Linked DNA regions of Homo sapiens. The protein of the gene in region 2 purifies or fractionates together with the protein of the main gene of each other region. This does not show direct contact. Each region holds a gene or a part of one and is shown on either strand. Other genes may lie near its edges. The genes, in order: SOCS7, SEPTIN6 and RGS3.

Region 1 (4,380 bases), on a different chromosome or scaffold from region 2:
CGCCCTCCCCTGCATCTGATGAAAATTTCATCTGTGCTGGTAAGTGGAGCATCGAATACAGAGCCTACCACAAAAAAAGCTGTTTCAGCAGCCACCCACTTTTCAAGATCTGAACTCCCAGCATGAATTCACTGGGAGGCAAAGCAGAAACACTGGCCTACCTAAAGGGACAACACACTGATTTCTTTAGAAAGTTTGGATTTGGCCTCATCCCCAAGATAAGCCCATGGCACAGCTGTTCAGAAAGGGCAAGAAAGCCAAATCCACCCAACATTTTCTTGTTGGAGTACCCAAGTTCCCTTGAAAACAGAAGTCTATGGATGAGTGGTTCCCAGTTCAGGATCAACTGGGGAGCTTTTAAAAAGTTCAAACTCTTAGGCTTTTCAAAAAGCTCCCCAAGTGATCTTAGTTCACAGTAAGGTTATCAATTTATACCTGTTCTTTAGCTTTGGTTTATGGCTGCCAGTATGTCTCAAGAATCCATCACGTAAACCACAACAAAACCCATTCCAATCTTTCTGAGAACCCAAAGAAGTACAAACCACAATGGCAGTTACTACAAGGTAACTAATTTCACTGACACCAAAGTTGACAGCTTTGTAAACCAACGCTACAGATGTAACACTGGATGCCGAAGATCAGTCCACCCCTCAGAAATGCAGGAAAAAAACTCAACGTCTATGTTTGGAATTTTCATCAATCGGCCTAGAACTCATGTACCTGTCTCTACCTTGTCTATATCTTACTGGTACTTAGAATTCTCAAAAGGCTTTGAGAGAGCGCAAAGCTATTTTCTCGAGACAGGCTCTCACTCTGTCACGCAAGCTGGAGTGCAGTGGCACGATCACTATTCACTGCAACCTCCGCCTCCTGGGCTCAAGTGATCCTCCTGCCTCAGCCTCCCGAGTAGCTGGGACCACTCCCGCCTAATTTTTTGTATTTTTTTCGTAGAGATGGGGGCTAATTTTTTGTTTGTTTGTTTTGTAGAGATGGGGTTTCGCATGTTGCCCAGGCTGGTCTCAAACTCCTGAGCTCAGGTGATCCGCCCTCCTCGGCCTCCCAAAGTGCTGGGATTACAGGTGTGAGCCACTGTGCCCGGTCTGCTATTTTCTATTCTCAGAGACAGTGGTCAGCACCCAAGTTTGATATGCCAAGTTCATCTAAGGGAACAACCAGGAAAACAGTAAAACTTTGAATAGAGGTGTCCAATTGATTGCTGGCCTACAATTGCATTTGAAGATTCTCCTGTCATTTGCATGCATGAGTGTGAAGGGAGGTGCGGTGCTGGTACACAGAATAAGCAAGGCGGTCAAGGTGCAACACCAGCTTTTTGCCCCAAAGGCCAAACACTTCCAGCAATCTCCCTTCCAGGGACAATGGCACACAGCCGCCTTGGAAAAACTTAAAAAGCCATGCCAGGATGGGGATGGGAGGATGGTCTGAAACCATCTTCCAACAAGACAGATGCAAACCAGCTGAGAAGTGTCACGGAGTGTGCACTCTTTAAGAGTGAAAGCTGTTTCCACAATTAGCGCTGACCTTATGCGAGATGTTACCACCTTTGGTCCCAAGTCTCTGCCTCCTCCTGAAGACCCTATCTTAAGAACTGTCAGGATCGCGATAGCAATAGATAAAAAGGGAAACCAAACAAGAAAAGGAAGTTTGTCGGCCAGCCCCCGGCCGGTCTCACCTCCCCGCGTCCAGCTCCCGGCCCGCAGAGCCTCCCATGTCTGTCAGGCTCGCAGCTGAAGCAGCCAGCTCTCCAGAAGGCCTCTTGCCGGTCCCATCCCCACCGCCGGAGCCACCGTTGCAGCTCTTGGTGCGAAAGAGGCGACTGAGGCGGATTTTGAAGGAGCCCTTCCGAGAAGGACCCGCGAGTGGCCGGAGGGGCCCGGGAGGAGGCGGGGGCGGGGGAGGTTGCTGCTGCTGCTGCTGCTGCTGCTCCCCTCTACTCAGGCGCCCCAGAGGGACCAAGTCCTGCAGCGGGAAGGGCACCGGAGGTAATTCAGGGCCTGGGGGCTGCAGCAGAAGCCGGCCGCCCCCTCCTCCTCCGCGACCCGGGCTGCTGAGCTCCTCTTCCGAGCAGCTGTTAGTCTCCAGGCTCTCGGCCTCCGATTCCAAGCCCTCCAGGACCAGCAGCGCGTCGCTCGTTTCCGTGGGGTCCTCCCCGGCCTGCGGGGCGGCAGCAGGCGGCTGGGGCTGCGGAGGGGGCGGCTGAGGAGGACACGGACACGGGCAGCAACCCCCACCGACTGTCTTGACCCCCGGCCCCGCCGGCTGCCCGAGCCCCAGAGCCGCCAACTGCGCCTCTAGTCCAGCCGCCGGGCCCCAGGTCCGCTCGAGCGCCAAGCCCGGCGGCAGGGCCTTGGGGTCCAGGGCACAGCGGTGCCGGGGACACAGCAGTTCCGAGGGTCCCGGCTCCGGGGCCGCCTCCACGTCCTCCTCCTCCGGCGGCCGACCCACGTTGCGGAACACCATCAGCTGCGGCGGCCGGGAGCCCCGCGGGCCGGGCCGCGCGAGGAAGGGTGGCGGCGGGGGGCCATGGCCCGGGGGCGGTGGCGGAGGGCCTGGCTCGGGGGCCGCCTCTCCATAGCCAAGGAGGCGGCTCAGGACGCGGTACGAAGCGGCCGCCGCCGCCGCCTCGCCATCCCGGAGCTCGGCCTCCTGCATCGGGGAGAGGGAGGGAGGGCGGGCGGCTGGGAGCCGGGCTGGGGTGGGGACTAGGCCGGGCCCCGCCGGAGCCCCGCCCGCCGCGGCCCCCGGAGCGACAGCGCTAACGGCCGCCGCGGCCTCTGCCTCATAGAGGGGGGCGGGGGGCGCGCGGAGCCCAGCGCGAGCCCAGGCCGCGCTCCGCCACCGCCGAGCACCGCCCCCAAGCCGACGTCACTTCCGGAAGGGCTTAGCCACGCCACTTTCCCCAGGGCGTGCTCGCGCTGGCCTCCACGGCGAGTGACGCCGCGCGCGCCCCCGGCCCCTATTGGCGGTGAGCTGTCTGTTGGCTGGCGTTGGTCTCTTTTCCCGGTCCTTGCTTTTCACTTCCTGGGCGCCCAGGCCCAGGCCATCCCATTCGGTAGAGTGGAGAGGCCTTGGAAACCATGGTCTGGTCCTGGGAGCGCGCCGCTGGCCTTGGGAGCACATATGGTTCTGCCATCTACGCCGCTTGCGATGTGTGACCTTGGCTGAGTCATTTCATCATTAATCTGTATCTCCGTCCGCCTGGCACCCAGTGAATGTTTGTGGAATCAGTACATGAATCGTGTTCTAGACCCAGTGCTGTACTGATAAATGTGTAACAACCAGCTCTCTGGGGGGAGAACGGGAATGTATGCACATATATAGGTACAAAAATTTGTCGTTAAGTTTTACTGACATAAAGGATGTGTAGTTCACAATTTACAATTAATAGTAAATTGGCAAATTCCATATAACTCTTTCTCACAGAATGCTTTCATTGATTTTTGCCAAACTCTTATATGGGTAGCCAAACTGTGATTGCAGTTGACCTAGGAGTGTAATTGTAAAGGTGAATGTTGGTTGATAAAACTGAAAAAGACAAAACTTAATTGGATTGTCAATGATGGGAGCAACTTCTTTGCTGAGTCAGAAAACGGTTTCAAATACTGGAAGAATATTTACTCAATTTTTGTGCTATTCATAATGTAACGGCTACAGACAACACATTAAGTTTTTGCTGTTGTTGAGATGGAATCTTTCTCTATTGCCCAGGCTGGAGTGCAATGGCGCTATCTTGGCTCACTGCAACCTCTGCCTCCCGGGTTCAAGCAATTCTCCTGCCTCGCTCCAGGTAATTTTTTGTATTCTTAGTAGAGACAGGGTTTCACCATGTTGGCCAGGCCAGTTTTGAACTCCTGACCTCAGGTGATCCACCCGCCTTGGCCTCCCAAAATGCTGGGATTACAGGCGTGAGCCACCGCGCCCACGCCCGGCCTTCTTATCTTTACACAGGGATAAGGATTGCAATTTTGCTTGCTTGCAGGCATGTTGTGAGGATCAAATAAGATCAAGCTTTTTGTGTGGAGGAGGTGAGACTGGAGGCAGGGAGCCCATTGAAATAGTCCCAGTGGGAGATATTGAGAGATGCAAGGGAAAAGGAGGAAGGATCAGCTGCAGAACTCAGTGACTTCTAATACCTGAGGGTGCATTGAGGGGAAGAGGGTGGAGGGTTGAGTCCTGCAACCAGAGGGACCTTTTCAGAATGGAAATGTGTTCATAGCCTGTGATTAAAATTGTTCATGGCTTCCCATTGTTCTTAGGCTAATGTGTGATCTTGTGATCTGACCCCTGTGTGATCTAACCCCTGCCTCTCTAGCCACATCCCCTGCTAAGCTCCACCTTGTTCTCTGTTCCCTGCATTCCCAT
Region 2 (3,648 bases):
ATGGGGTTTCACCATGTTGGCCAGGCTGGTCTCGAACTCCTGACCTCAGGTGATCCACCCGTCTTGGCCTCCCAGAGTGCTGGAATTACAGGCGTGAGCCACTGCACCCAGCCTATCTCCTATTTCTTTAAAAATAAGCTTAGGCCAGGGGCATCTCCCACTAGACCATGAGTTCCTTGATGGCAGGTATGATGGCTGTTGGCTCTAGAGGCTGAGTGACTAGCATCATGTCAATTAGTACTGAGTCTAGCACATATGGAGTCTCCTCAAGCATTTGTTGAAATAGTTCATTAATGTGGTCAGTTTCAGAGCCAGGGCCTGGCAGCATTGTGCAGTGGGAAAACCCAGATGAAGAGACAGGAGACTCAGCTTCTGGTCAAAGTTCTCCCTCTAACTAGCCGTGGGGCCTTGAGTAAGACACCTCACCTCTCTGGGCCTCAGTTTTCTCATCCGTAGAACAAGAGTATAGAACCAGATATTCTAAGTCTCTCCAGTTCACTAGGGTTGCCCCATCCCCCTCCAGAATCCCTGTGGGCATGCTGTCATGGGCCAAGCCAGGTGCCCACAGCTTTGTGGTTCTATTTTTGTACCTGGCTCACAACTGGGGAAGGGAGGACAGAGGAACCCAGTGAGGATCTTTGGGGCCAGTTTTATCAAATAGGAATCATTCCAAAGGAAGAAGAATTAACCTGACCATGTTCGCAGTTTACAGGAGACATATGAGGCCAAAAGGAACGAGTTCCTAGGGGAACTCCAGAAAAAAGAAGAGGAGATGAGACAGATGTTCGTCCAGCGAGTCAAAGAGAAAGAAGCGGAGCTCAAAGAGGCAGAGAAAGAGGTAAATGTGAGCCTGGTGATTATTAAAATGTCAAGAAACAACAGCTGCTGGTGAGACTGTGGAAAAATAGGAACGCTTTTACACTGTTGGTGTGAATGTAAATTACTTCAACCACTGTGGAAGACAGTGTGGTGATTCCTCAAAGACCTAGAATCAGAAATGCCATTCGACCCAGCAATCCTATAGATCACTTTATTATAAAGATACACACACACATATGTTCACTGCAACACTATTCACAATAGGAAAGACATAGAATCAACTCAAATGCCCATCAATGATAGATTGGATAAAGAAAATGTGGTACATATACACCATGGAATACTATGCAGCCATAAAAAGGAATCAGAGGATGTTCTTTAGAAGGACATGAGTGGAGCTGGGAGCCATTATCTTCAGCAAACTAACACAGGAACAGAAATCCAAACATTGGGCCGGACACTGTGGCTCACGCCTGTAATCCCAACACTTTGGGAGGCCGAGGTAGTTGGATCACCTGAAGTCAGGAGTTCGAGACCAGCCTGGCCAACATGGTGAAACCCTGTCTCTACTAAAAATACAACAATTAGTGGAGTGTGGTGGCACATGCCTATAGTCCCAGCTACTTGGGAGGCTGAGGCAGGAGAATCGCTTGAATCTGGGAAGTGGAGGTTACAGTGAGCTGAGATCATGCCACTGCACTCCAGCCTTGGTGACAGAGCAAGACTCCATCTCAAAAACAAAAAAAAAGAAAGGAAACACTTAATTACTTCACGATTCTCTTCCACATTTAACCTGTCACACTCTCAAGGGTTCTCACCAAAGCCCATGACAAGGGTATTGATTTTTTTTTTCAGTTTCACTTAAAAAAAAAAAATGTCTGTTGGCTGGGCGCGGTGGCTCACGCCTGTAATCCCAGCACTTTGAGAGGCCAAGGCGGGCGGATCACAAGGTCAAGAGTTCGAGACCATCCTGCCTAACACGGTGAAACCCCGTCTCTACTAAAAATACAAAAAAATTAGCCGGGCGTGGTGGCGGGCGCCTGTAGTCCCAGCTACTCGGGAGGCTGAGGCAGGAGAATGGCGTGAACCCGGAAGGCGGAGCTTGCAGTGAGCCGAGATCGCGCCACTGTACTCCAGCCTGGGCGACAGAGCGAGACTCTGCCTCAAAAAAAAAAAATGTCAGACAGGTGCCTTGGCTCAGGTCTGTAATCCCAGCACTTTGGGAGGCTTAAAGCGAGGGGATTGCTTGAGCCCAGGAGTTTAAGACCAGCCTGGGCAACATACTGAGACCCTGTTTCTATTAAAAATAGAAAAAATTGGCTGGGCGCAGTTGCTCACACCTGTAATCCCAGCACTTTGGGAGGTCGAGGTGGGTGGATCACGAGTTCAGGAGTTTGAGGCCAGCCTGGCTAATATGGTGAAACCCTGTCTCTGCTAAAAATACAAAAATTAGCCAGGTGTGGTGGTACGCACCTGTAGTCCCAGCTACTTGGGAGACTGAGGCAGAAGAATTGCTTGAACCCAGGAGGCGGAGGTTGCAGTGAGCCGAGATTGTCCCACTGGACTCCAGCCTGGGCAACAGAGCGAGACTCCATCTCAAAAAAAAAAAATAATTACAAATACAAAAAATTAGCCAGGCATGGTTGCACGTGCCTGTAGTCCCAGCTACCCAGGAGGCTGAGGTAGGAGGAATGCTTCAGCCGAGAGATCGAGGCCACTGCATTCCAGCCTGCGTGACAGAGTGAGACTCTGTCTCAATAAAAAAAACAAAAATGTCACCCAGCACTTTTAGGAGGAGAAGTGAGGGGATCTCAAAGACAAATGAATAAAAGTGCAACAAACAAAAACCAGGTTAAGGCAATTGATAGGCAGCCCTAGTGACTAGTAAGAGCTGCTTTAGGCCAGGCGTGGTGGCTCATGCCTGTAATCCCAACACTTTGGGAGGCCAAGGTGGGCGGATGACAAGGTCAGGAGATCGAGACCATCCTGGCTAACTCAGTGAAACCCCGTCTCTACTAAAAATACAAAAAATTAGCCAGGAGTGGTAGCACGTGCCTGTAGTCCCAGCTACTTGGGAGGCCGAGGCAGGAGAATCACTTGAACCTGGGAGGCGGAGGTTGCAGTGAGCCGAGATTGTGCCACTGCACTCCAGCTTGGGCGACAGAGCGAGACTCTGTCTCAAAAAAAAAAAAAAAAGAAAAGAAAAAAGAAAAGATCTGGTTTATACAGCAAGTCTGTCACTCACCCACCTAAGTGACAGTGCCAAATACCCCCAGGACCCGGAGAACTAACCTTCTTCATCGTATGCTGCAAGTGCTACAGAATCCTAAACTCTCTCCTGAATCCATGAAAGAAAGTGAAATTCGGCTTGCTCTGCTCTTACTATTCAGGGTAGTTTATTGCATTCTAGTTTGTGACTGTCTGTGCCTCTTGTTCTCTGATCCACTTACCACAATGGCATGCCAGAATATTCTTTTTTTTTTTTTCCGAGACAGAGTCTCACTCTTGCCCAGGCTGGAGTGCAGTGGTGCGATCTCGGCTCACTGAAAGCTCCGCCTCCCGGGTTCAAGTGATTCTCCTGTCTCAGCCTCCCAAGTAGCTGGGATTATAGGCAAGCGTCACCACGCCCAGCTCATTTTTGTATTTTTAGTAGAGACGAGGTTTCACCATGTTGGCCATGCTGGTCTAGAACTCCTGACCTTATGCCACCCACCTTGGCCTCCCAAAGTGCTGGGATTGAGCCGACTACTGGGATTACAGCACTCCCAAAGTGCTGGTATTACAGGCGTGAGCCACTGTGCCTGGCCCAGAATATTCTTCTTGTTCTTC
Region 3 (3,648 bases), on a different chromosome or scaffold from region 2:
TGAAGTCATTGTAGGTATACATAATATTTTTCTCCAGGATTGTATATTTTATTTTGATTAGGATATTTGCTGATTTTTCTTGTAACAGCTTTATTGAAATATAATTCAGATATATACAATTCACTCATTTAAACCATACAATTCAATGGTTTTTAGTATATTCACAGAGATGTGTAACTATTATCACAATTTCAGAACATTTTCATTCCCTCAAAAAGAGACATTATGCTCTTTAGCTTGTACCGTCCTCCCTTGTCCCGAGCCCAAAGCAATTGCTAATCTATTCTCTCCCTCTGTAGATTTGCCTGTTCTGGACATTTCATATAAATGGAATCGTATTTTTTTTTTTATGACTGACTTCTTTCACTTAGCATAATGTTTTCAAGTTTAATCCATGTTGTAGCAGATATCATACTCCATTCATTTTTATGGCTGAGTAGTATTCATTGTATGGCTATACCACATTTTAAAAATTTATTCATCTGGTGATGAATATTTTGGCTGTTTCTCCCTTTTGACTATTATGAATAATACTGCCATGAACATTTGTGAACAAGTTTTTGTGTGGACAAATGTTTTCATTTCTCTTCATATACACACAGTATATACCTAGGAGTAGATTTGCTGAGTCCTATGGTAACTCTGTGTTTAACTATTTAGGGAACTACCAAACTCTTTTCCAAAGTAGGTGTATCATTTTATGTTCCCATCAGCTGTGTATATGGGTTTTGGTTTTTCCACATTCCTTACCAACACTTGTTATTATCTGACTTTTTAATTCTAGCTATCCTAGTGGGTGTGAATTGATATTCACTATAGTTTCGATTTGCATTTTCCTGATGACCCGTGATGTTGAACATTTTTTCATGTGCTCATTATTTATATATCTTCTTTGGAGAAGAATGTATTCAGATCTTTTGTTCATTTTAAAATTGGGCTTTTTGTCTTGTTATTATTGAGTTGTAAGATTTCTTTATATATTCTAGATGCAAGCTCCTTAACCGATATATGATTTGCAAATATTTTCTCTCTATCTGTGGGTTTTTTTCACTTTCTTGATAGTGTTCATTGAATCCCAAACTTTTTTTGGGGATGGGGTCTTGTTTTGTTGCCCAGGCTGGAGTTCAGTGGCATGATCATGGCTCCTCTTTGACCATGCAGCCTCAACCTCCTGTGCTTAAGCGATCCTCCCACTTCAGCCTCCTGAGTAGCTGGTACTACAGATGTGCACCACCATGCCTGGCTAATTTTTCTTATGTAAAAAAAACTTTTTGTAGAGATGAGGTTTCCCTATGTTGCCCAAGCTAGTCTTGAACTCAGGGACTCAAGCGATCTCCTGCCTTGGCCTCCCAAAGTGCTGGGATTATAGGCATGAACCACTGTGTCCAGCCAGAACCCCAAACATTTTTAATTTTGATGAAGTTCAATTTACTTTATCTTTTGTTACTTGTACTTTGTGTTATATCTCAGAATTCACTGCCAAATCTAAGGTTCTGTCAGTTACCAAGAGATTTACCTGTATGTTTTCTTCTAAGAGTTTTATAGTTTTGGCTCTTATATTTAGGTCTTTGATCCACTTTGAGTTAATTTTTGTGTATGGTATGAGGTAAGAGTTCAACTTCATTGTTTTTTGTGGCTATCCAGTTGTCCCAGTACCATTTGTTGAAAATACCATTATTTCTCTATTGGATGATCTTGGTACCTTTACTGAAAATCAATTGCCCATAAACCCACGGCTTATTTCTAGGCTTTCAATTCTATTCCATTGATCTATCTGCCTATTATCATTCCAGTATCATACTGTCTTGATTACTGTTGCTTTGTAGTACATTTTGAAATCAGGTTGTGTAAATCCTCCAATTTTGTTCTTCTCTTTCAAGATCATTTTGGCTGTCCTGGGTCCCTTGAATTTCCATATGAATTTTAGGCATAATATTTTATATAGAAAATAAAAAAACTCAAGTTCACAAAAATGTTGGATAGATAGTTTTAAAATATCATCTTGAAGGGATACCAACTTATTAGTTTGACTGATGAAGCAAATTATTAATTTACCTGGGGTCTCTGAACCAAATTTTAACTTGCTTGGGATCTCTAGTCACCTGGATATGGTGAGTGGTCAGGAGAGAGAACAGGTTGCCTTTTCTGCAGGGTATCTGGGTCTGGAGATGGTGGGCAAGCTGGACATGTTCTGAGGTCTGCAGGTGGCTGTGGACATTGGGTGACAAAATGCACCTCTCTTTAGAAATGCCAGCCCCCTATGAACCTACAAAATGAAAGCTGTCGGGAGCAGCTCTAAATGTAGGCTCGAGAGGACTGCCTGGAGTCACTGATTTGCCATAGGGAAGTTGGGAAGATGTGGTTCTGGAGGCAGAGTAGACTTAGGAGTGTCATTGATTTGCTCAGCATTTTTTTTTTTTTTTTTTTTTTGCCTCATGTTTGTTGTGTTGGTACAATGTTAGCTGGGGCCTGTTTCACTCCTTTCTCTGCCTCTCTTTAGAAGCCGTGGAGATAAATAATTCATTTTCTGTAGTGAGAGTGAAGCTTGGGAACAGATGTCAGCCAGCTGCGTGGTGTGTTGGGCAGTGCACGGTCAGGCCCTGAACTGGAGGCCTTCAATGTGTCCCTGCCAGCTGCCCCTGGCTGGCACGTGTTTCCAGTCCCACTGCTCTGAGCCTGGGAGATTCCCTGGCATGGTTGGGGAAACCTATCCAACTGTTTCTCAGGAGCTCATCATTTGCTGGTCATACTCCTCAGCATTTATTGGCTTTTCTGTCATTCAGAGTCCAACTGCTCAGGAGCTTTCAGAAATTCCTCAAAGTTTCTGGCCCATAGATAGCCCTTTGTCCTCTTTTCCCATTCTGCTTTGTGTGTTCTTCTTAAACATTTAAAAAAGTTTGAAATATTATACAGACAGACAGAAAAGTGTCCCCCCAATAATGTGCAATCCAGTGACTTCTCACAAAAAAAAAACCTTTGTAACTTTCACCAGAGTCAAAAATTGAACATTTCTAGTATTTAGAAGACGCATGTTGATAATGCAGTTTTTTTCTTTATCATTTACTTCAAAATATTTTCTAATTTTCATTGTCATTTCTTTTTCAATCCTTGGGTTAGTTAGAAGTATATTTCTAAATTTCTAAATATTGGGGATTTTCTGGTAATATTTTTATATTTACTTTGCATTTTAGTCAGAGAATATACTCTCCATCCTTTTAATTCCTTGAAATTAATCAAAATTTACTTGATGCCTCAGCATATAGTTGTTTTTTTTTTTTTTTGTCGTTGTTGTTTTGAGACTGAGTCTTACTCTGTCACCAGGCTGGAGTGCAGTGGCGCAATGTAAACTCACTGCAGCCTCCCCTTCCTGGATTCAAGCAATTCTCCTGGCTCAGTCTCCCATGTAGCTGGGATTACAGGCACCCACTACCATGCCTGGCTAATTTTTGTATTTTTAGTAGAGATGGGGTTTTACCATGTTGGCCACACTGGTCTCGAACTCCTGACCTCAGGTGATCCACCTGCCTTGGCCTCCCAAAGAGTCAATTTTTATAAATGTTCTTTGTGTATTTGAAAAGGATTCTGCAGCAGTTGGGTGCAGTGTTCTTTGTGTATGTCAAGTTTAGGTCAAGTTTGCTCTTTATATTG

What was found.
Region 1: the proteins of SEPTIN6 (region 2) and SOCS7 purify together in Homo sapiens (affinity purification with western blotting; one study listed by BioGRID and IntAct). This does not show direct contact.
Region 3: the proteins of SEPTIN6 (region 2) and RGS3 purify together in Homo sapiens (co-immunoprecipitation; one large-scale study listed by IntAct). This does not show direct contact.

The regions. Positions count from the first base shown.
Region 1 is NC_000017.11:38,350,343-38,354,722, reverse strand, and holds the start of SOCS7 (suppressor of cytokine signaling 7), read right to left. Parts: upstream 2,880-4,380; 5' UTR 2,671-2,879; coding exon 1,691-2,670; intron 1-1,690. UniProt on the Homo sapiens protein: Substrate-recognition component of a cullin-5-RING E3 ubiquitin-protein ligase complex (ECS complex, also named CRL5 complex), which mediates the ubiquitination and subsequent proteasomal degradation of target proteins, such as DAB1 and IRS1.
Region 2 is NC_000023.11:119,630,550-119,634,197, reverse strand, and holds part of SEPTIN6 (septin-6), read left to right. Parts: intron 1-705; coding exon 706-838; exon of another isoform or gene 839-881; intron 882-3,648. UniProt on the Homo sapiens protein: Filament-forming cytoskeletal GTPase. Required for normal organization of the actin cytoskeleton. Involved in cytokinesis. May play a role in HCV RNA replication.
Region 3 is NC_000009.12:113,466,635-113,470,282, forward strand, and holds part of RGS3 (regulator of G-protein signaling 3), read left to right. Parts: intron 1-3,648. UniProt on the Homo sapiens protein: Down-regulates signaling from heterotrimeric G-proteins by increasing the GTPase activity of the alpha subunits, thereby driving them into their inactive GDP-bound form.